Regions from separate parts of the Homo sapiens genome. Here region 2 is linked to region 1. The links come from fine-mapping of genetic effects on gene expression. A gene starts in region 1. The other region holds a variant in brackets. All regions are shown on one strand. Distances are from middle to middle. Region 1 holds the start of FLVCR1 (FLVCR choline and heme transporter 1). Region 2 overlaps FLVCR1 (FLVCR choline and heme transporter 1).

Region 1 (10,257 bases):
CATACAAAACCCTTAAGACTCCTCTGTAGTAGATGCTCTGAACAAGCCAGGGCTGGGAAGGAGGTCTATTTATTTTTTGACTCAATTCTTTCATCAGAGTTTCAGTAAGTGAGTTACAAATTAGTGAATCAAGAGGAAACATGTGAAGCAGTTGCACAGTTTTTTCAGAGTAAATCTGGAAATGAAGATATTAGTTGCTACAGGTGGGAGGGGTGAGCAGAGGCAGATTTACCATGAAGTTAATATGAGGGTCTCTGAAGGCTTGTATCTCTCTCTCTCTCTTTTTTTTTTTTGACAAGGCCTCACTCTGTTGCCTAGGCTGGAGTGGCGTGATCTCAGCCCATTGCAGCCTTGACCTCCTGGGCTCAAGCGATCTTCCCACCTCAGCCTCTCAGGTAGCTGGGACTACAGGCATGCACCAGGCCCAGCTAAATACTGTATTTTTTTGGTAGAGAAGGGGTTTCGCCATGTTACCCAGGCTGGTCTTGAACCCAGGCTCGCCATTGCACTCCAGACTGGGCAACAAGAGCGAGACTCCATCTCAAAAAATAAATAAAAAAATAAATAAAAAGATCTAGAAAAGTGACAGAATAATTTGTTCCCATCTCACCAGTTTGGTTTCGCTGTACTGATGACCTCAACTGGCATCATGGACCGAGAAGAAACAAGACAAAAACACAGGAGAAAAAATCCTGGGACTCTTTTTTTTTTTTTTTTTTCAGGAATAAATATATACAAATAAAATGTCTCAATGGAGGGAAGAATACATGTGGGAGGATTCTGATTTCCAACCTTCTCCTCTACTCCTCCATTTCCAACTTGATCTTTTCACAAAATAGAACCATATAGCCTCTGCTGATCAGGTGGACAGAGCCTGATGCTAGTAGGAGTAAACTGAAGGCAAGGTTGCCCAAATCTACCCACCTCCCCATGAAACATCATGGATTGCACATCCAATAGCATTGTTCTGGTTTGCATCTTAACCTCTGAGGCTCGTAAACTGTGGCAAACCTTTGTTCAGGGACAGCTACATCACTCCTATTAGCATCTTGGACCTTGGCTCCTGGATGCTGTCCAGATCTCATATTGCTGAAGTGTTACTTATTCAAATCTCTCTGACTTGGCATTCCACACCCATAAAGTAGCTCAATCTCATCTTGACTCCCAGCCAAACGATGCTCCCAGTAGTATCTTTTTTGACAGAGATTAAGGTTCATTTTACGTTATACATCCAAACATTTGATATAAATAATGACTCATGTTTAAACTGGTTAATAAATATCTACCACTGAAGCCAGAGAAAGAAGACAAGATTAAGAAATTAGAATGGTGGCCGGGCACGGTGGCTCATGCCTGTAACCCCAGCACTTTGGGAGGCTGAGGTAGGTGGATCACCTGAGGTCAGGAGTTCGAGACCAGCCTGACCGACATGGAGAAACCCTGTCTCTACTAAAAATACAAAAATTACCCGGGTGTGGGCACCTGTAATCTCAGTTACTTGGGAGGCTGAGGCAGGAGAATCACTTGAACCCGGGAGGCAGAAGTTGCAGTCAGCTGAGATTTCATCATTGCACTCCAGCCTGGACTCCAAGGGCAAAGCTCTGTGTCAAAAAAAGAAAAAGGAAAAGAGAAAGAAATAGATTTCACTCCCTCCTTCCCTTCCTTCTGGAAGTTTGCAAGACTTTTTTTGTTTTTGTTTTTGTTTTTGTTTTTTTCTGAGACGGAGTCTCGCTCTATCGCCCAGGCTGGAGTGCAGTGGCGCGATCTCGGCTCACTGCAAGCTCCACCTCCTGGGTTTACGCTATTCTCCTGCCTCAGCCTCTCGAGTAGCTGGGACTACAGGCGCCCACCACCATGCCCGGCTAATATTTTGTATTTTTAGTAGAGATGGGCTTCACCGTGTTAGCCAGGATGGTCTTGATCTCCTGACCTCGTGATCCACCCGCCTCGGCCTCCTAAAGTGCTGGGATTACAGGCGTAAGCCACTGCACCTGGCCAAGATTTTTTTTTTTTAAGAAACAGATTTCACGTGGTGGTGGGCGCCTTAATCCCAGCTACTTGAGAGGCTGAGGAGGGAGAATCGCTTGAACCCCGGAAACAGAGGTTGCAGTGAGCCGAGATCGCATCACTGCACTCCAGCCTGGGTGACAAGAGCGAAACTCCGTCTCAAAAAAAAAAAAAAAATAATAATAATAATTTAAAAAAAGATTTCCTTCCTTCTCTCCTCCCTCCTTTTTTCCTTCCTTCCTTTCTTTTTCTCTCTTTCTTTCTTTCTCTCTCTCTTCTTTCTTTGTCTCTTTCCTTTCTTTTCTTTCTAATTTGGCACACAAACACTTTATTTAAATGCATATCTCAATTCCTGTGCGGCTGGCAAATAAAATAAAGGAGCAGATCATGGCACAGCATTCTCATGGACCAAGTGGTCGAACCCAACATCCAAGACCCAGTGAGCAGCCAAGCTCAGTGCAACCTCCAGGCCTCTCGCTCTGACTCCAACAGGGTGAGCACATAGCCCTTGCGCATGGGGTCTTTTACACTGTGGATGATGGAGTGGCTTGTGTCTTCCATAAATTCCCGCATGCACTGTCCCTGAGAGCTGGTTCTGCCCAGGACCTTGGTGACCCTGGCTAGCTAGATAGGCTGCACATGGCTGGTGTCTGTGATGGCGATGCAGCAGCAGTTGGGCAGAGAGAAGAAATAGATTTCTTTACAAAGCAAGTAATTATTTAAAATATTCACGGTAATTCAGTATTCATTAGCTGTACTCAGTAAATATTTATTGAACAGCTACTATGTGCTAGGTACTCGCACAAAGTACACTGGTTACAAATTCTTGAAAAATAGTAGCGGTAGCAAAAAGCAACAAAACTTTCAGCCCTGCCCTTATGGAACTCACATTCTAGTGGGCAGGGAGAAAATAACCAGAAAAAGGCCCAGCACAATGGCTCATGCCTGTAATCCTAGCACTTTGGGAGGCCGAAGTGAGCTGATCAGTTGAGACCAGTCTGAGCAATGTGGCAAAACCCCATCTCTACAAAAAATACAAAAAGTACTCAGGCTTGGTGGTCAGCCGAGAGAGAGAGAGAGAAGGAAAGAAAGAGAGAGAGAAAGAAAGAAAAGAAAGAAAGAGGCCAGGCTCGGTGGCTCAGGCCTGTAATCCCAGCACTTTGCGAGGCTGAGGCGGGCGGATCACGAGGTCAGGAGTTCAAGACCAGCCTGGCCAATATGGTGAAACCCTGTCTCCACTAAAGAAAAATACAAAAATTAGCCAGGCATGATGGCGCGGGCCTGTAGTTCCAGTTACTCGGGAGGCTGAGGCAGAAGAATCGCTTGAACCTGGGAGGTGGAGGTTGCAGTGAGCCGAGATCGCGCCACTGCACTCCAGCCTGGGTGACAGAGCAAGACTGTCAAAAAAAAAAAGAAAGAAAGAAAATAACCAGAAAAAAAAAGTAAAAATATAGGACATTTTAGGTGAAGGTAAGCACTAGGAAAGAAAGAAAAAAAAAAGCAGGGAAGGGATGTTGGCCGGGGCGGGCGGAGGGGGGGATTTATACAGTTTGGCCAAGGAAGACATTATAATAATGCACTTATTCCTTAGTTTAGAACATGTAGCATTTCACCTGTACCGAGAGATGCCTGATATATTTCATACATGACCAAAATAATAATGTAAGAGGCAATAAAAAAGTGCAGGGTTTTAGGGTTCTAGATATCAGCACATTTTAAGATTAAATGCATGGTAAGAACTTTTGTACTATATACACCTAGTTTGAACTTAAATTTAATAACAAACTCTTTGGAGTCTCTCTCTCTCTCTTTTTTTTTTTTTCCCAAACATAGCTTCCCAAGGAGCAGAAGGGCTGAATTTTCTCTAGTTCCAGGAAGACCGCAAGGCTACTGTGCTCTGGATGTCTCGTTTTTATTTTTTTATTTTTTTATTCTCCAGATCTCAAGACGGTGTCTGGCACATACCATTCAATACAAGTTTGGTACCTGGAACCCACTGAATATGCATGTCCAGTAACTATTAACTACATGTGTTGGTGCAAGGGAGAAGGTCGAGCAACCGGATCTGCTCCATCATAGCCCGTCTCAGTCGCTTCATTCAAGTCAGCGGGGTGAGGTTGAGGGGATTCCAACTTCACAAGGGCAGATTTCTCATGGACTCTCTTTCTCTGGTTGTACTGGAACACTTTCTGGCGTTATTCCTCTGCTGGGACAGCATGAACTTATGAAACGTGGTCCTGTCTGCCCTAAAGCCAGGGTCTCACCGACAAGGACAGCGATGCTGGGGCGAGAAATAAAGTTCGTCCTGGGCCTGCGTACGGTACAGCGCCCTTGGGAAGCCCTTGTGGAGTTAAGGGTGATGCCCACTTCTTTGTCTCCCTCATTCTGTTTCGGTGGCTCTCTCGTTCCCAGTTCCAAGCTGCCCACTTGTTAGAGGAGCCACTGCTTACCAGGCATCTGGTTTAATAAAACATGGCTAGAGCGACTGCATGTTAAAGTGAGTAACTAGGCACTCACAAGGCACCTATAAGGTTAATGCTAAAGGTCTGAAAATAGCCGCATTCTAAGCTGACCAACAATTATAATTACACAATATTTATGGCCATACAGGACATCTCCCACCAAGTCTGCGGAATTGTCCAGATGTCCTGAGTTTTTTTTTTTTTTTTAGACAAGGTCTCACTTTGTCGCCCAGGCTAGGCTGGAGGGCAGTGTGGTGCGATCTCAGCTCACTGCAACCTCCGCCTCCCAGGTTCAAGTAGTTCTCCTGCCTCAGCCTCCTGAGTAGCTGGGACTACAGGCATGCACCACCACGCCTGGCTACTGGCTTTTTTTTTTTTTTTTTTTTTTTTAAATAGATGGCATCTCAGTATGTTGCCCAGGCTGGTCTCGAACTCCTGGGCTCAAGGGAGACTCCTGTCCGGCCTCCCACAGTGCTGGGATTACAGACGTGGCCACCGAGCCCGGCCCAGCCCTCTACTCAGAGATAACGTCAATGCGCAGGCTTAGGTTGAAGGATTAATGGTCATTAGTGCACCAACAGCCCCTACCTTTAGTGGGCACATCAGCACATTCCACGATTAATCACAGCTCCTCACAGCTGCCTCTAAGTAGTGACACTACCGAAGGACGGGAGTTCCTCCTCCTGCAGTCTGAGGACTTGCACTCTCTAACGGAGTAGATTCCAATAAACTTGCTTCCTTCACTGCGCTCTGTGACTCGCCTCCAATTCTTCCCTGAAGTAGACCCAAGAACCCTCTCTTGGGGTCTGGATCGAGACCCCTTTTTCCAGCAACACAACCCGCGGGGCCGCCTCCCGCCCACCCTCAGGTGCAGGAGACCCCGGGCCATGCATCCTTCCGGGCAGGAAAATGTCAGCCAGCGCTCGCCGGCCGCTTTCCTCCCCCGCCTCCCGAAGTTCTCGCCCGGTAGCTCCCCGACTGGCTCTCGCGCCGGACAAAGGCGCACGCTGATTGGCCGGAGGGCCGTAGTCATGCAGGACGCGCGACTCTAGGGGCGGGACCAGACAAGGGGTGACTGCCGCGCGGCGCGGGGGAGGAGACCTTCATCTGTTCACGCGGTAGCGCGGATTGCGGTTCGCGGCGCGCGCCACCGGGGAAGGAGCGGTGGGCCGAGGGGTTGGAGGTGGGGCCCCAGGAGGACCTCGGGCTGTGGGCCGGGAGAGCGGAGTCGGGGAGTGGGGCGGGGGAGCGAGGTGGCGCCGGGGAGCCTGGGATATGGCGCGGCCAGACGATGAGGAGGGGGCGGCGGTGGCGCCCGGACACCCGCTCGCGAAAGGATACCTCCCGTTGCCGAGGGGCGCGCCCGTTGGGAAGGAGAGCGTGGAGCTGCAGAACGGGCCCAAAGCGGGCACCTTCCCGGTGAATGGGGCCCCCCGGGACAGCCTCGCTGCCGCCTCGGGAGTTCTGGGCGGGCCTCAGACTCCACTGGCCCCAGAAGAGGAGACCCAGGCCCGGCTGCTGCCTGCGGGCGCGGGAGCTGAGACCCCGGGGGCCGAGAGCAGCCCGCTGCCCCTTACGGCGCTCTCCCCGCGGCGCTTCGTGGTGCTCCTGATCTTCAGCCTGTACTCGCTGGTCAACGCCTTTCAGTGGATCCAGTACAGCATCATTAGCAACGTCTTCGAGGGCTTCTACGGTGTCACCTTGCTGCACATCGACTGGCTGTCCATGGTGTACATGCTGGCCTACGTGCCCCTCATCTTCCCGGCCACCTGGCTGCTGGACACCAGAGGCCTGCGGCTCACCGCCCTGCTGGGCTCCGGCCTCAACTGCCTGGGTGCCTGGATCAAGTGCGGCAGTGTGCAGCAGCATCTCTTCTGGGTCACCATGTTGGGCCAGTGCTTGTGCTCGGTGGCCCAGGTGTTCATCCTGGGCTTGCCCTCCCGCATCGCCTCAGTGTGGTTTGGGCCCAAAGAGGTGTCCACAGCTTGTGCCACCGCCGTGCTGGGCAATCAGGTAAGTACTGGAGTGGTAGGTGAAAGTCAGATCCTTAAAAGACCGGAAAAAGTCATAGGCCGTGAGAACTATGGCCTGTATGGATGAACTGCCCCAGGAGGTATTTGTCTATAAAAGAGGAGATGAAGCCGTTGAATAGGAGGCCGTCTTGGATTGAAGTGGGCTATAAATTTCTTTGTAAGGACAAAATTTTCCAAACGACCTTGTCATCTTGCTTTGAAAATTACCTATAAAATAATTAACTGGGCCGGGCGCGGTGGCACACACCTGTAATCCCAGCACTTTGGGAGGCCGAGGTGGGTGGATCACTTCAAGTCAGGAGTTCCAGACCAGCCTGGGCAACATGGGGAAACCCCGTCTCTGTTAAAAATACAGAAATTAGCCAGGCCTGCTTGCGGGTATCTGTAGTCCCAGCAACTCAGGAGGCTGAGGCAGGAGAATCTCTTGAACCCGGGAGGTGGAGGTTGCAGTGAGCGGAGATTGCACCTTTGCACTCCAGCTTGGGTGACAGAGTGAGACTCTGTCTCAAATAATAATAATAAACTGTAACCATAATAATAATAATAATAATTAACTGTATTGGCTTGTGTATGCCTAACATGGAAAATTTGTCAATGCAGTAACGAACAAGACTTGGGGTATTATTTTTGTCACCAGTGTATTTGTGAAAGGAAGGTATTGGGTTCTGGGAAGATTGTTTCCATTTTGAGAGGTCATTGTGAACAGCTCCCTTTTAATTTCATATATTAGCAGTCAGCACAGTTCCTGGCACATAAGGGACACATAAATGACTGCTAACCAAAAGTTCTGGGCTGGGCGTGGTGGCTCACGCCTGTAATCTCAGCACTTTGGGAGGCTGAGGCAGGCGGATCACTTGAGGCCAGGAGTCTGAGACCAGCCTGGCCAACATGGCAAAACCAAATACACAAAAATTAGTGGGGCATGGTGTGGTGCATGCCTGTAATTCCAGCTACTCAGGTGGCCAAGGCATGAGAATCTACATGCTTATTGCTTTATAGTCATTTCCCTTATCTAAAAGTACAGAAGATGGAGTAGGTTGAACTATAGTTGTTTGTCCAAAATAATTTATGACTGATACTTGAGTTGGTTGCATCTGCAGGTTTGGACAGAAGCTATTATAAAGTTTTTTGTGTGTGTGGTTTTTTTTTTTTTTTTTTGTAGAAATGGGGTTTCTCCATGTTGCTCATGCTTGTCTCGAACTGCTGAGCTCAAGCTCTCTGCCCACCTCTGCCTCCCGAAGTGCTGGGATTACAGGTGTGAACCACCACGCCCGGCCATGATTACATTTTCTTTGTCACACATCTCTCAGTTTAAATTCATTTTTAAATATTCAGTAGCATTTCTTGATCCCATTTAGAGTTGCCCAGTCACTCTCTTTACATTATTTTACTTTAATTCTCCTTATAGCACTCATCCCTGTCTCATATGTTATTGTTTACATGTTCATATGTTACTTACCTATTACTTTTCTCTTATCCCCACCATTAGATTGTAAGTTTCATGAAAATAGGAATGTGGTCTGAATGTACACAGCTGTATCACCAGCATTTATTACTCTCCATAAAACCATGTTGAATAAATAAAGGAGCTTCAGACTCATACAGATACTGGCCAGCTGGATAGTCTACTTGGATATCTCATGGGAACACACCACTCAAAATTGCTTTCTCCTTGCTCATTTCCCTTTATCTCTAATGCCACTGTCTTGGTTTGGGCCACCCACAGCTCTCACCTAGAGCTTGCTAACTGTCCTCCCTATCTGTAGCCCTTGCTGTCTTCCCTCTGTTCTCGCATTCATCCAGCGTGGTCTTTTACAATGTGCAAATCTGTTCCGGGCACATCCTTACCCCCTGCAGTGGCTTCCATTGTCCTTAGGATAAAATTCAAACACTCTAGTGTGACATATGGGACCCTCCAGATCTGCCTCCTGCCAGCCCTTCCACTTTATCTGTATGCACAACCCCTGTCCCCACAGACATATGCTTTCTCTGCTCTGTGCAGAACTATGCCTACTTATAGTTTCTCACAAGGTCGTGCCCTTTCCCTCCTGGCCTTGTATGTAATGTCCTGTTGGCTTGGAATATTTCTTCACTTGACTAACTCCAATTTCTTATTCAGATCTTTGCTCCTCCAGGAACTTTTTCTGAACCCCATTTCTTTTCATTCTTTTTGATAGCTGAATAATATTTCTATATAAGGTGCTCCCCCAAAGTACTCTCTTAGCTACCATGATCATATGTCCCAGTTTGCTTGGGATAGTCCAGGTGGTACACCTGTTGTCTGGTATGATTACTAATGAAGTCCCTTTCATTCTGAAGAGTATTCTAGATGGATAGTAAATTACGTGGTCTCCCCAGTCTTGGCACTGTTTACGTCTCAATCACAGTACTGTATTACCACCCTCTCTTGTAATTACCAGTTATATTCTTTCTATCTAGCTTTTTGTTTTATTTTTATTTATTTATTTATTTATTTTGAGATGGAGTCTTGCTCTGTCCCCCAGGCTGGAGTGCAGTGGCGCGATCTTGGCTCACTGCAAGCTCTGCCTCCCGGGTTCATGCCATTCTCCTGCCTCAGCCTCCCGTGTAGCTGGGACTACAGGCACCCGCCTCCACACCCGGCTAATTTTTTGTATTTTTTAGTAGAGACTGGGTTTCACCATGTTAGCCAGGATGGTCTCGATCTCCTGACCTCGTGATCCCCCCACCTCGGCCTCCCAAAGTGCTGGGATTACAGGTGTGAGCCACCGCGCCTGGCCTCTATCTAGCTTTTTGTAAGGGAGCAAATGAAATATTTGATAAGTGTGACTATCTCTGCCTCAGACTCCTTTCTTGGGCCCTTCCTCCTCACGCCCTTCCTCCTAAAAATCTTCCTCCTAAAAACCTTCCTCCATTGAACCTCCTAATAGTTTGATTTTATTTCTTGTGATTATGATATTTAGCCATATTTTTTGTTGAGGTAAAATTCACATAAATAAAACTAACCATTTTAATGTGTACAATTCAGTGGCGTTTAGTACATTTACAGTGTTGTGCAACTGTTACTTCTGTCTAGTTTCAAAACATTTTTATCCACCCGCAAAGAAGGCCCAATACCTACTAAACAGTCACTTCCCCACCATTGCCCCCTCCCCTAGCCTGTGGCAAGTACTAGTTTCCCTTCTCTTTCTGTGGATTGACCTGTTCTGGATATTTCATATAAATGGAATCATACAGTAGGTGACCTTTTGTGTCTGGCTTCTTTCACTTAGCTTATTTGCAAAGTTCATCCATGTTGTAGCACTGTATCAGTACTTCATTCCTTTTTAATAGCTGAATAATATTTCATTGTATGAATATACCACATTTTGTTTATCCATTTATCTGTTGATAAATGTTTGGGTTATTTTCACCTTTTGGTTATTGTGGTAATGTGAATAGGGCTGCTGTGAACATTCATATGTAATTATTTGTTTGAATTTCTGTTTTCAGTTTTGGGGACATATACCTAGGAGTAGAATTGCTAGGTCATATGGTAATTCTATGTTAAACTTATTAAGGAACTGCCAAACTTGTCTGCAGTGGCTGCACCATTTTATAGTCCCACCAGCCGTATTCAAGGGTTCCAATTTTTCCACATTCTTGCCAACACTTTTATATTGCTATTATTGTTATTATAGTAGCCATGCTACCTGGTGTGGAGTGGTATCTTATGGTTTTGATTCGGGCATGTTTTCAAATGCTTATTGACCATTTGTATATCTTCTTTGGAGAAA
Region 2 (11,524 bases), 45 kb after region 1:
TTCATATGCACCCAAAAAAGCTAGTCAGGTAATGAATACCCTTGAAGTGAATAGCAATTTTGATTTAGGCAGTGTGTTAGGCCATCCTTGCATTGCTATAAAGAAATATTTAGGCTGGGCGTGGTGGCTCACGCCTGTAATCCCAGCACTTTGGGAGGCTGAAGCGTGTGGATCACCTGAGGTCAGGAGTTCAAGACCAGCCTGGCCAACATGGTAAAACCCCATCTCTACTAAAAAAAAAAAAAAAAAAAAAAAAAAAAAAAAAGGCCAGGCGCAGTGCTGTGGCTCATGCCTGTAATCTCAGCACTTTGGGAGGCCAAGGCAGGTGGATCACAAAGTCAGGAGTTCAAAACCAGCCTGGCCAAGATGGTGAAACCCCATCTCTACTAAAAATACAAAAATTAGCGCAGTGGCAGGCGCCTGTAATCCCAGCTACTCAGGAGGCTGAGGCAGGAGAATCGCTTGAATGCGAATGGCAGAGGTTGCAGTGAGCGAAAATCACACTACTGCACTCCAGCCTGGGAGATAAAGTGAGACTGTCTCAAATAAATAAATAAATAAATAAATAAATAAATAAATAAATAAATAAAACCTGAGGTTGAGCACGATGGCTCACACCTATAGTCCCAGCACTTTGGGAGGCTGAGGTGGGTGGATCATTTGAGGCCAGGAGTTGAAGACCAGTCTGGCCAACATGGCAAAACCCCATCTCTACTAAAAATACATACACACACACACACACACACAAATTAGCCGGGCATGGTGGCACACGCCTGTAGTCCCAGCTTCTTGGGAAGCTGAGGCATGAGAATTGCCTGAACCTGGAAGGCGGAGGCTACAGTGAGCTGAGATTGCGCCACTGCACTCCAGCCTGGGTGACAGAGCGAGACTCTGTTTCAGGAAAAAAAGAACAGAAATACCTGAGACTGGGTAATTTATAAATAAAAGAGGTTTAAGTGGCTCACAGTTCTGCAGGCTGTGTAAGCATGGCACCAGTGTCTGCTCGGCTTCTGGGGAGCCCTCAGGGAGCTTTACTCATGGTGAAAGGCTAAGTGGGAGCAGAGATGTCACATGGCGAAGCAGGAGCAAGAGAGCAGGGAGGTGCCACACACCTTCAAACAACCAGATTTTGTGAAAACTCACTCATTACTGCAAGGACAGCACCAAGCCATGAGGGATCCACCCGCAGGACCCAAACACCTTCTATTAGGGCCAACCTTCAACATTGGGGATTACATTTCAATGTGAGATTGGAGGGACAAGTATCCCAACTATATCAGGCAGAATATATGCATTGATATATATTGAAATTATAACATTCTCTATAATCAAGTGACTGTAAATTATGTCGAATCTGACCCTGGGGAATGTGTTATCTAAAGAATTTGACTAAGAATCAGGAACTCTGTGTCCATGTCCTGGATGTATTTCTGTATGTTCCTATAACTCTGGACAAATCATTAAACCTCTCTGGGCAGCGTTTTCCTCATCCATGAAATGAATGTGTTCAATTTGATCTCAAAGATCTTTCCAAAATATTAAATGCCATTAATCATGGAATAGACCAAATTATTGTATCACAGGAACTTGAATCCAGCCAGAGAAAAATTCCCTGGACAATTGGATAAACAAATGTGATTGCTACCTTATGGATACAACGGACTTTTACATTTCTTTTTAGCCTTTTTAGTCAGTTGAGGGTAACTCAAGCAGAGTATGTCCAATCATTAGCTTCCTTTGATATTTACATTACAGGTAAAAACGGCCAAAAATATATTTTAAGGTCTCTCCCCAAATGTTTTTATTTTTAAACTATCAATGTTGTTTAAAATAATCATGTACTTGTTGAGTTCCTGAGGTTTGGAACAAATTACACATAAAATTTAGAATACTTTATTTCTGAAAAGCATATACATATATGTTATGTTTATTTTTCCTTGTTGATTAGAAAGGTGATGGAATATGTGACAATGCAAAATGAATTGATAATTTTTCTGTATTTTGAGTGAAAGTTGTCTGTAATATGTCAAGCAAGAATGTTATAATTCTACAGTAATGTGTGACTTCATGACAGAGCTACATTCTGAGAAATTTGTCATTAGGTGATTTCATCATTGTGTGAACATCATGAAGTGTACTTACACAAACCTAGGTGGTAGAGCCTACTGCACACCTGGGCTAGATGGCAAAGTCTGTCGCTTCTGGGCTACAGACCTGTACAGCATGGTACTGTATTGAATACTGTAGGCAACTGTAACACAATGGTATCTGTGTAATCTAAACATAGAACAGATAATACATTGTGCTACAATGTAACAATGGCTGTGGCATCACTAGGTGATAGGAATTTTTCAGTTCCATTATAATCTTATAGGATCTCTGTCATATGTGGTCAATTGTTGATCGAAACATGACTGTATGTCGTATTTTCAGAAAATGGAATAGGTAATCATCACTTGTGTGAATTTTAATCAAATGACTTAGGAAAGAAACTGGATGTTTCAAAAGCTGTTGCATTTATTACAAATGTCACAAATACAGCTCTTGCCTTTTGAGAATGTTGGAGAGATGTCTTTAAAAAATATGTTTGTGTGTAAAAATGTGTCTGTATGCAATAGCTAGAAAAATGCCTGTGTCTTAAGTCATTACTCATGTTCTAATTTTTGTTCTTTGTACTATTTATCTGTATGCTTGTTCTTCAGTATTTCAGACTCAAAATAAATTTATTTTTTTATGTTAATTTTCTGTGACTTTTTGAAAAATTCTGATGCTTAGGTACACATGGGGAGTTTAAAGGGATTATAAAATTTCAGAATGGGCAAAGAGGGAATGAGGTAGTGCATGGAACATAAAATGAGGAAACAAAGTCTACCAGGGTCAGGGCTAAAATAGATACTAAAATATTTTATTCCTTTAAAAGTAACTTTAGAGAGTGATGTTAGCAAGATGGCAGAATAGGAGCTTTATATCATCATTCTTCCACAGAAGCATTGATTTTTACCAGTACTTTCAGATGGTAGTTCTTTTGTAGGAATCCAGAAGTCCTACGTGGAAGTTCCAGCACACCATTGGAGCAGAAATATCTGAGAATAAATGCATTAAAGAAAAGGAAGAAGAAGATTTTCACTTTATCTGCATCACTCTTTGAAGTTGGCACAGCTTAGTGGCAAGAGAGACTCCCCTCAGTCCACAATTTCTCCCATGGGAGAAGGTGATAGCATAGTGAGAGTGCTCAGCCCCTAGCTGTGTGGGATGCTGCCTAAGAACCCTACCTCTTTCTTGCTCCAATTAAAATATTGAGGTGACTGTCATAGCTAAGCGTTGGGAAAGGCTGGGAGCAGGGAAGAAAGGCTCTGAAACCTACTCAGCACTCCACAGACTCCATCAGGAAGCCTCACCAGCCACTGGGATACCTTGCATATGGACCTCCCACATGACCCATGGCCACCCCAAATTCTCTGTGCACCTCACCCCCATCTCCCTGAGGCTGGCTTCCCAAGCATGCCACATTGGATGGCAACTGCAAGCATCAAATATAGAGACAGATGGCTTGATTGTGGAATTGAAGCAAGGTACACAAACTTGAGTACTTCAGGACACCACCCCAGGGGAAACAAACAGGAAGCTGTCAGCACCTGGCCTGGCTTTGTGGGATTGAGATAAGGCATATAACTTTTAAGAATCCCCTGCTGCAAGTGGGAACAGGGGTTGTGGAGCAGGTGAATCCACAGGAAAGGTAGGAGAGAGCCTCAGAATTCCTAGCCAGGCAGATTGATGAAGGCATTTCTCTCCTGAAGCTAGTCAATAAAGACTGGAGGAAGTGATTTTCTTCAAATGCAAGGATGGAAATGGAAGACTTCAAGAAAACAAAAAATGGAAACATGATATCACCTAAGGAGCACAATAATATTACAGTAACAAATCCAAAGAAATTGAGATATATGAATTGCTTGACAATAAATTTAAATTGTTTTAAGAAAATTCAGTGAGCTACAAGAGAACAGATATACAACTCTATGAAATCAGAAAAACAATGCATGAACAAAATGGAAGTTCAGCAAAGAGAAATCATAAAAAAATTCTGCTGCTGAAGAATACAATCAGAAAGGAAAAAAGCAGTAGTCAACAGCAGATTTGATCAAGCAGAAGAAAGAATCTGAATTCCAAGACAGGTCATTTGAAAATATGCAGCCAGAGGAGAGAAAAAGAATGAAAAGATTAAAGAGAGCTTATGAGATTTATGGAACAACATTAAGAGCTAACAGTTGCTTTATGGAAATAATAAAGGAGAAGAGAAAGAAGGAGCAGAAAGCTTATTTAATAAAGCATGGCTGAAAGCTTCTCAAATGTGGGAGAGACACAGACATTAAGGTATATGTCGCTCAAAGTTCTGCAATCTGGTTCAACCCAAAGAAGACTTTGCCAAGACACATTACACTGAAACAGTCAAAAGTAAAAGAATTAAACTTTTTTCCTTTTTTTTTTTTCTCTTTTTTGAGACAGAGTCTCACTCTTGTCTCCCAGGCTGGGGTGCAGTGGCATGATCTTAGCTCACTGTAACCACCTCCTCCTAGGCCCAAGCGATTTTCATGCCTCAGCCTCCCAAGTAGCTGGGATTACAGGCATGCACCACCATGGCTGGCTATTTTTTTTTTTTTTTTGTATTTTTAGTAGAGATAAGGTTTCACTACGTTGGCCAGGCTGGTCTCAAACTCCTGGCCTCAAGTGATCCACCTGCCTTGGCCTCTCAAAGTGCTGGTATTACAGGTATGAGCCACTGTGCCCAGCCAAAAATCAAAGAGAATTTTTAAAGCAGCACAAGGAAAAAGAAGCTTATCACATACAAGGGAGACCCCATAGGCTATCAGATTTCTCAGCAGAAACCTTGCAGGCCAAGAAGAGTAGGATGATATATTCAAAATGCTGAAATTTAAAAAAGAAAAATAAACTGCTAACCAAGAATACTTTACCTGATAAATCTGTCCTTCAGAAAAGGAAAGATTAACTTTCCCAGACAAATAAAAACTGAGGGAGTTAAATCACCACCAGACCTACCTTGCGAGAAATGCTAAGTGGAGTTCTTCAAGCTGAAACAAAAGTATGCTAATTTTAATGCTAATATGAAAACATAAAAAGGTATAAAACTCACTGGTAAAGATACGTATATAGTCAAAATCAGAATATTCTAATACTGCAGTGGTTATGTGTAAATCATTTTAACTCGTGTATAGGCTAAAATAAAAATATTAAAAATAACTAGCTTTGGTAATTCATTAATTGATACACAATATAAAAGGATGAATATTGTGACAGCAAAAGCATAAAATGGCGTATAAAAGTGTAGAGTTTTTGTGTGTGAACAAAGTTAAGTTGCTATCAGCTTAAAATAGACAATAAGATGTTTTATGTAAGCCTGTTTTAACCACAAAGCAGAAACCCGTAGTAGACACACACAGATAAAGAGAAAGGGATCTAAGTATACTACTAAGGAAAATCATCTAATCACAAAAGACAGCAAGAGAGGAAGAAAAGGACAAAGGATCTTTAAAACCGCCAGAAAACAACAAAATGCCTGTAAGTTCTTACCTGTCAATAATTACTTTAAATGTAAATGGGTTAAATTATCCAATCATAGACATAGATTGGCTAAATGGATTTAAAAACCAAACTGTATGCTGCTTACCAGAGTCACTTTAGCTTTAAAGATATACATAGGCCGTAAAGGGATGGAAAGAGAGAATCCATACAAATGGAAACAGAAATAGAGCAGGGTAGCTTTATTTATTTATTTATTTTTGAGACAGAGTCTCACTCCACCCAGGCTGGAGTGTAGTGGCATGATCTCAGCTCACTGCAACCTCCACCTCCTGGGTTCTTGTGATTCTCATGCTTCATCCTCCCAAGTAGTGGGGATTACAGGTGTGCACCACCACACCCATCTAATTTTTGTATTTTTAGGAAATGGAGTTTCACTGTGTTGGCCAGGCTGGTCCTGAATGCCTGACCTCAGGTGATCTGCCTGCCTTGGCCTCCCAAATGTTGGGATTACAGTTGTGAGCCACTGCACCTGGCCAGGGTAGCTATATTTAAATCAGACAAAATGGACTTTAAGTAAAAACTTTGGCCAGGCATGGTGGCTCACGCCTGTAATCCCAGCACTTTGGGAGGCCAAGGCAGGTGGGTTACCTGAGGTCAGGAGTTCGAGACCAGCCTGACCAATATGGTGAAACCCCATCTCTACTAAAAATACAAAAATTAGCTGGGCGTGGTGGCAGACGCCTGTAATCCCAGTTACTCAGGAGGCTGAGGCAGGAGAATCGCTTGAGCCTGGGAAACAGAGGTTGCAGTGAGCTGAGATCGTGCAACTGCACTCCAGCCTGGCCAACAGAGTGAGACTCTTGTCAAAAAACAAACAAAAAAAACACCTAAAAAACTTTAACAAGGGACAAAGAAGACTATTATATAATGATAATGGAGTCAATTTTTTTTTTTTTTTTTTTTGAGACAGAGTCTCGCTCTGTCGCCAGGCTGGAGTGCAGTGGTGTGATCTCGGCTCACTGCAACCTCCGCCTCCCAGGTTCAAGCAATTCCCCCTGCCTCAGCCTCCCAAGTAGCCAGTACTATAGGCCTGCACCACCATGGCCAGCTAATTTTTTGTATTTTAGTAGAGACG[G/A]GGTTTCACCACATTGGCCAGGATGGTCTCGATCTCCTGACCTCATGATCCGCCCACCTTGGCCTCCCAAAGTGCTGGGATTACAGACATGAGCCACTGTGCCTGGCCTTAATGGGGTCAATTATTTAAGAGGATCCAACAAGTTGTGTGTGCATGTGTGTGTGTGTGCCAACAGTGGACTACCTAAAATTATGCAAAGCAAATATTAACAGATCTGAAAGGAGAAATAGCAGTAGAATTAATAGGGGATTTCAGTACCCCACTTGCAACAATTGATAGAACATCCAGCCAAAATCAATAAGGAAACATTGGATTTGAATTACACCTTAGACCACATGGACTTAATGGACATATATTGAATATTCCATCCAATAGCAACAGAGTACACATTTTCCTCAAGTACACATGGAACATTCTCCAGGATGGGTCATATGTTAGGCCCAAAAGAATGTCTTTAAAATACATTTAAATAAGAAATACAATTGAAATAATCATATATTCCTTAAGACATAATATCATATTAAGCAACTTCTCTGATGCTTACAATGATAGGAAATTACACAATTACATATTATTTCACAATGATATGAAATTACCCACCAATAGAAAGAAAACTGGAAAATTCAAAAATATGTAGAAATTAAACAACAGATTCTGAACAACTAGTGAGTCGAAGAAATCAAACAGGAAATCAAAAAATATTTTGGGACAAATGAAAATAGAAATACTTTCTATTTCCATTACCATATCAAAACTGATGGAATGCAGCAAAAACAGTTCAAGGAGGGAAATTATAACAATAAATGGCCACATGAAGAAATATCTTAAATAAATCACCTAACTTTACACCTGAAGGAACTAGACAAAGAAGAACAAATTAAGCCCAAAATTAGTAGAAGGAAGTAAATGACAAAGATGAGAACAGAAATAAATGAAATATAGACTAGAAAAATAATAGAAAAGATCAGTGAAACTAGGAGTTGTATTTTTTGAAAAGAAAAACAAAATTGATGAACCTTAGAGTAAGAAAAAGAGAAGTCTCAAATGAAATTGTAAATGAAAGAGGAGATATTACAACTGATACCACAGAAATACAAAGAATCATGAGACTATTATGAACAATTGTACTTCAACAAACTGGATAACCTAGAAATTGATAAATTTCTATAAACATACAACCTACCAAGACTGAGTCATGAAGAGATAGAAAATCTGAGTATACCAATAACAAGTAAGTAGATTGTATCAGTAATCAAAAATTGTCCGTAGAAGAAAAACCAAAGTCCCAGTGGCTTCACTGGTGAATTCTACCACACATTCAAAGAAAATAATACTAGTCCTTCTTAAAGTGTTCCATAAAATTTCAGAGGACGAACACTTCCAAACTAATTGTCAGCATTACCCTGATACCAAAACCAGTCAAGGACATTATAGAAAATAAAATTACAGGCCAGTATCCCTGATCCTCCACAAAATACTAGCAAACCAAATTTAACAACACATTAAAAGGATCATACACTATGATCAAATGGGATTTATCCCAGGGATATAAGGATGGTTCAACATATACAATTCAATAAATGTGATATACTATAAGGGTAAAAATTATATAGTCACCTCAATAGATGCAGAAAAAGTATTTGACAAAATTCAACACCCTTTCATGATAAAACCTCAAAAAAAAAAAAAGACATAGAAGGAGCTTAACCTCAACACAATAAAGATCATTTATGAAAAGCCCACAGCTAACATTATACTCAATGGTGAAAAAGCTGAAATCTCTTCCTCTAAGATCCAGAACAAGGCAAGGAGGTCCACTCTTACCACTTCTATTTAGTAGGACTGGAAGTTCTAACATGAGTAATTAGATAAGAAAAAGAAATAAAAGGCATCCAGACCTGAAAGGAAGAATTAAAATTGTGTGCAGATAACATGATCTTATGTATAAAAATCTCTAGAGATTCTATGAAAAAACATTTAAAAATAAATTCAGGAAAGTTGCTGGATACAAAATCAACATATGAAAACAGTTGCATTTCTATATACTAATGAACTATCTGAAAAACTAAGCAAAAAATTTCATTTACAATAAGATCAAAAAGAATAAAGTACTCAGAAATAAGTTTAATCAAGGAGGTGAAAAATCTGTACAATGAAAACTATAATGCATTGATGCAAGAAATTGAAGACAAATTAATGGGAAGATATCCCAAGTACATGGATCAGAAGAATCAATATTGTCAAAATGTCCAACTACCCAAAGCAACCTTAAGATTAAACACAATTTCTCTCAAAATTCCAATCGCATTTTTCATAAAAATAGAACAATCTTAAAATTTGTGTGGAACCTCAAGAGAACTTGAATAGCTAAAGCAAACTTGAGAAAGATCAAAGTTGTATCACACTTCCTGATTTCAAATTATATTACAAAGTTACTGTAATCAAAACGGCATGATACTCTCATAAAAACAAACTAGGCCAATGGAACAGAAAGCCCAGAAATAAACTCATACATACACTGTCAATTAATCTGTGACAAGAATACACAATGTGGAAGGGATAGTCTTCAATAGATACTGTTGGGAAACCTGGATAACCACATGCAAAAAAAAAAAAAAAATGAAATTGGATTCTTATCTTACATCATACACAAACATCAACTCAAATGGATTAAAGACAGGGCAGGTGTGGTGGCTCATGCCTGTAATCCCAGCACTTTGGGAGGCCGTGGTGGAAGGATCACTTGAGTTAGGAGTTTGAGGACAGCTTGGGCAACATAGTAAGACCTCGCCTCTACCAAAAAAAATTTAAAAATTAGCCAGGTATGGTGGCACACGCCTGTGGTCTCAGCTACTCAGGAAAGCTGAGTTGGAAGAATCTCATGAGCCCAGGAGGTTGAAGCTGCAGTAAGCCGAGATTGCACCACTGCACTCCAGCCTGAGTGACAGAATGAGACCTTATCTCAATAACAACAACAACAACAACAAAGACTTAAATATAAGACCTGAAATCATAAAATGTAAGGAGGAAACATAGGCATTGATGAGCAATGATTTTTTTTTAATATGACACCAAAAACAGAGACAGCAAAAGCAAACATAAACAAGTGGGACTAAACTTTTAGCGTAGAACAGCAATTTTGCCCGCCACCACTTTTGCACCATCATTGCAAATGTCAACATAGTGAAAAAGGTATATAACTTCTTTGTATTATTATGAAAAGAGTTTGGACATTATGGATTCCCTGAAAAGGGTCTTGCTTCTAGAAAGGAGAAACTGGCTATCACTACATTGATCAATGATTCACAATGCCAGAATATGGAGAGAATAAAGAGTAAGGGAGGATCAAGGATCAAAGGCCTCTAATTAAAGGAGGTAGGTGGAACATAAAGAGTTAGTGGAGACAAAGAAGGAGCCTAAGGGAAAGACAGGCAGAAGATTTAGGGTGGTTTTATTAATGAGACCAAAGAGAAGAGAATTGGTAGCTGCAAAGCAAGATACTACCTCTGTGTAAACGAAGAGTTATAAAAAGCTGCTACTACCATCTGTTGTCATGCCATTTAAATTATAATTAGTATGATATTTCAGGATAAAGTTTCCAGCATTATTTAGTTTTACAAACAGCTAAATATTTGAGGCAAAAGCCATGAAACTGTTTAAAATATAAAATAATAACATGGCATTTTATCTGTTACCGGCTACCCTATAAGAAATAGGAACTTTAAAATCTAAGACCTTTCTCAGATCCCATTCAGAATCACTAAAATTTACATTTAGATTTTCAGTGGGAAAAACTACTTCCATCCAGAAAAAAAGATACTCTTTATTTTCAATAGCAGGCGAAGAAATCTAGGTAAGTAACACATTTCTGAAGTCACCTCTTTCCTGTAAGCCACCTGTTAGTGTCAGCTTCTTGTCCTCACCACACTGCCCCTCACTTTCTGCAGGAAGAGTTGGTCAAACTAATAGGTGACATCCCGCCCTGAAGTAATTTCAGGGCCCTTGACAGGATCCCATGCCTGGAAGATGCCTTTATGACCTTTCACCGGAGATACGATATTTTTGGGTCCCTAAAGAGAGAGAAGGTTTCAAAGCACACCAGACTACCAAGAGGGAATATCTCATCTTAAGTCTGATGGCTGTCCTGCAAGCAGGTTTGAATAGGAGGGAGGAGGAGATGGGGCTTGGAGGCCCTATAGCCTTGAGAAAGGAGAAAAGGACGGCACAGGAGAGAAATTTAGAAAGGACTCATTAAAATAAGACATATGAGCCTCATTTTCCATTTCGACAAGTGACGTATTAAGCCTTTGTTTTATCTTGTTATATGTACCCATTTGCACTTTTCCCTTTATCTTGATTATTTTAACCCGTGGGCGAAATGGTAACTGTAAAGAGAACAACCTGGCGGAAACCAGTGGAAACTTGATTTCTGGTTGGAGCCCATAGGTTTCGGTTGACAAATGCTGCTTGAGCATACCTCTCATTCCCATAATGAGGAAAACATTTGATTCTTCCAGGGATGAACTGGCCCCAAACTCCCTGAGATAAAATGATAAATTAGATTTTTATAAAGTTTCATAATGCATAAAAATTAAAATGAGGCTGAAATAGGACTGACAGTGCTTTCTTTTTCAGTGAAAAGGCTGAATCCTTCAAAACATACTTTGACCCCAAACCAAGACGGACAAGATCTGGGTCATTCCAGCTAGGGCAGAATTTGTCCATGGCCAGAGCTTTCTATTGTGTCATCAGGAGCTCAGAATTTAAAAAGATGTCCCTGGAGAGGCTATACACAGCAATAAACTCATTCTTTGCAACGTTATTCAATACTTGGTACTCTTATTCATAAGG

The links.
Region 2: its variant is fine-mapped to the expression of FLVCR1 in aorta (GTEx, PIP 0.93).

Annotation. Positions count from the first base shown.
Region 1 is chr1:212,852,709-212,862,965 of GRCh38, forward strand. FLVCR1 (FLVCR choline and heme transporter 1) reads left to right here and starts at 5,567. Exons shown (of 10, transcript NM_014053.4): 1 at 5,567-6,482. The coding sequence starts at 5,745. It overlaps FLVCR1-DT (FLVCR1 divergent transcript), which reads right to left and starts at 5,430. Exons shown (of 2, transcript NR_027286.1): 1 at 5,058-5,430; 2 at 3,896-4,210. It also overlaps the pseudogene RPS28P2. RefSeq lists silencers at 5,668-5,727, 5,808-6,017 and an enhancer at 10,235-10,257.
Region 2 is chr1:212,896,624-212,908,147 of GRCh38, forward strand. FLVCR1 (FLVCR choline and heme transporter 1) reads left to right here. Exons shown (of 10, transcript NM_014053.4): 10 at 1-2,740. Among named protein-coding and RNA genes, the nearest start is that of FLVCR1, 44 kb to the left of the region's middle. The variant G/A (reference allele first, on the strand shown) is at 6,674.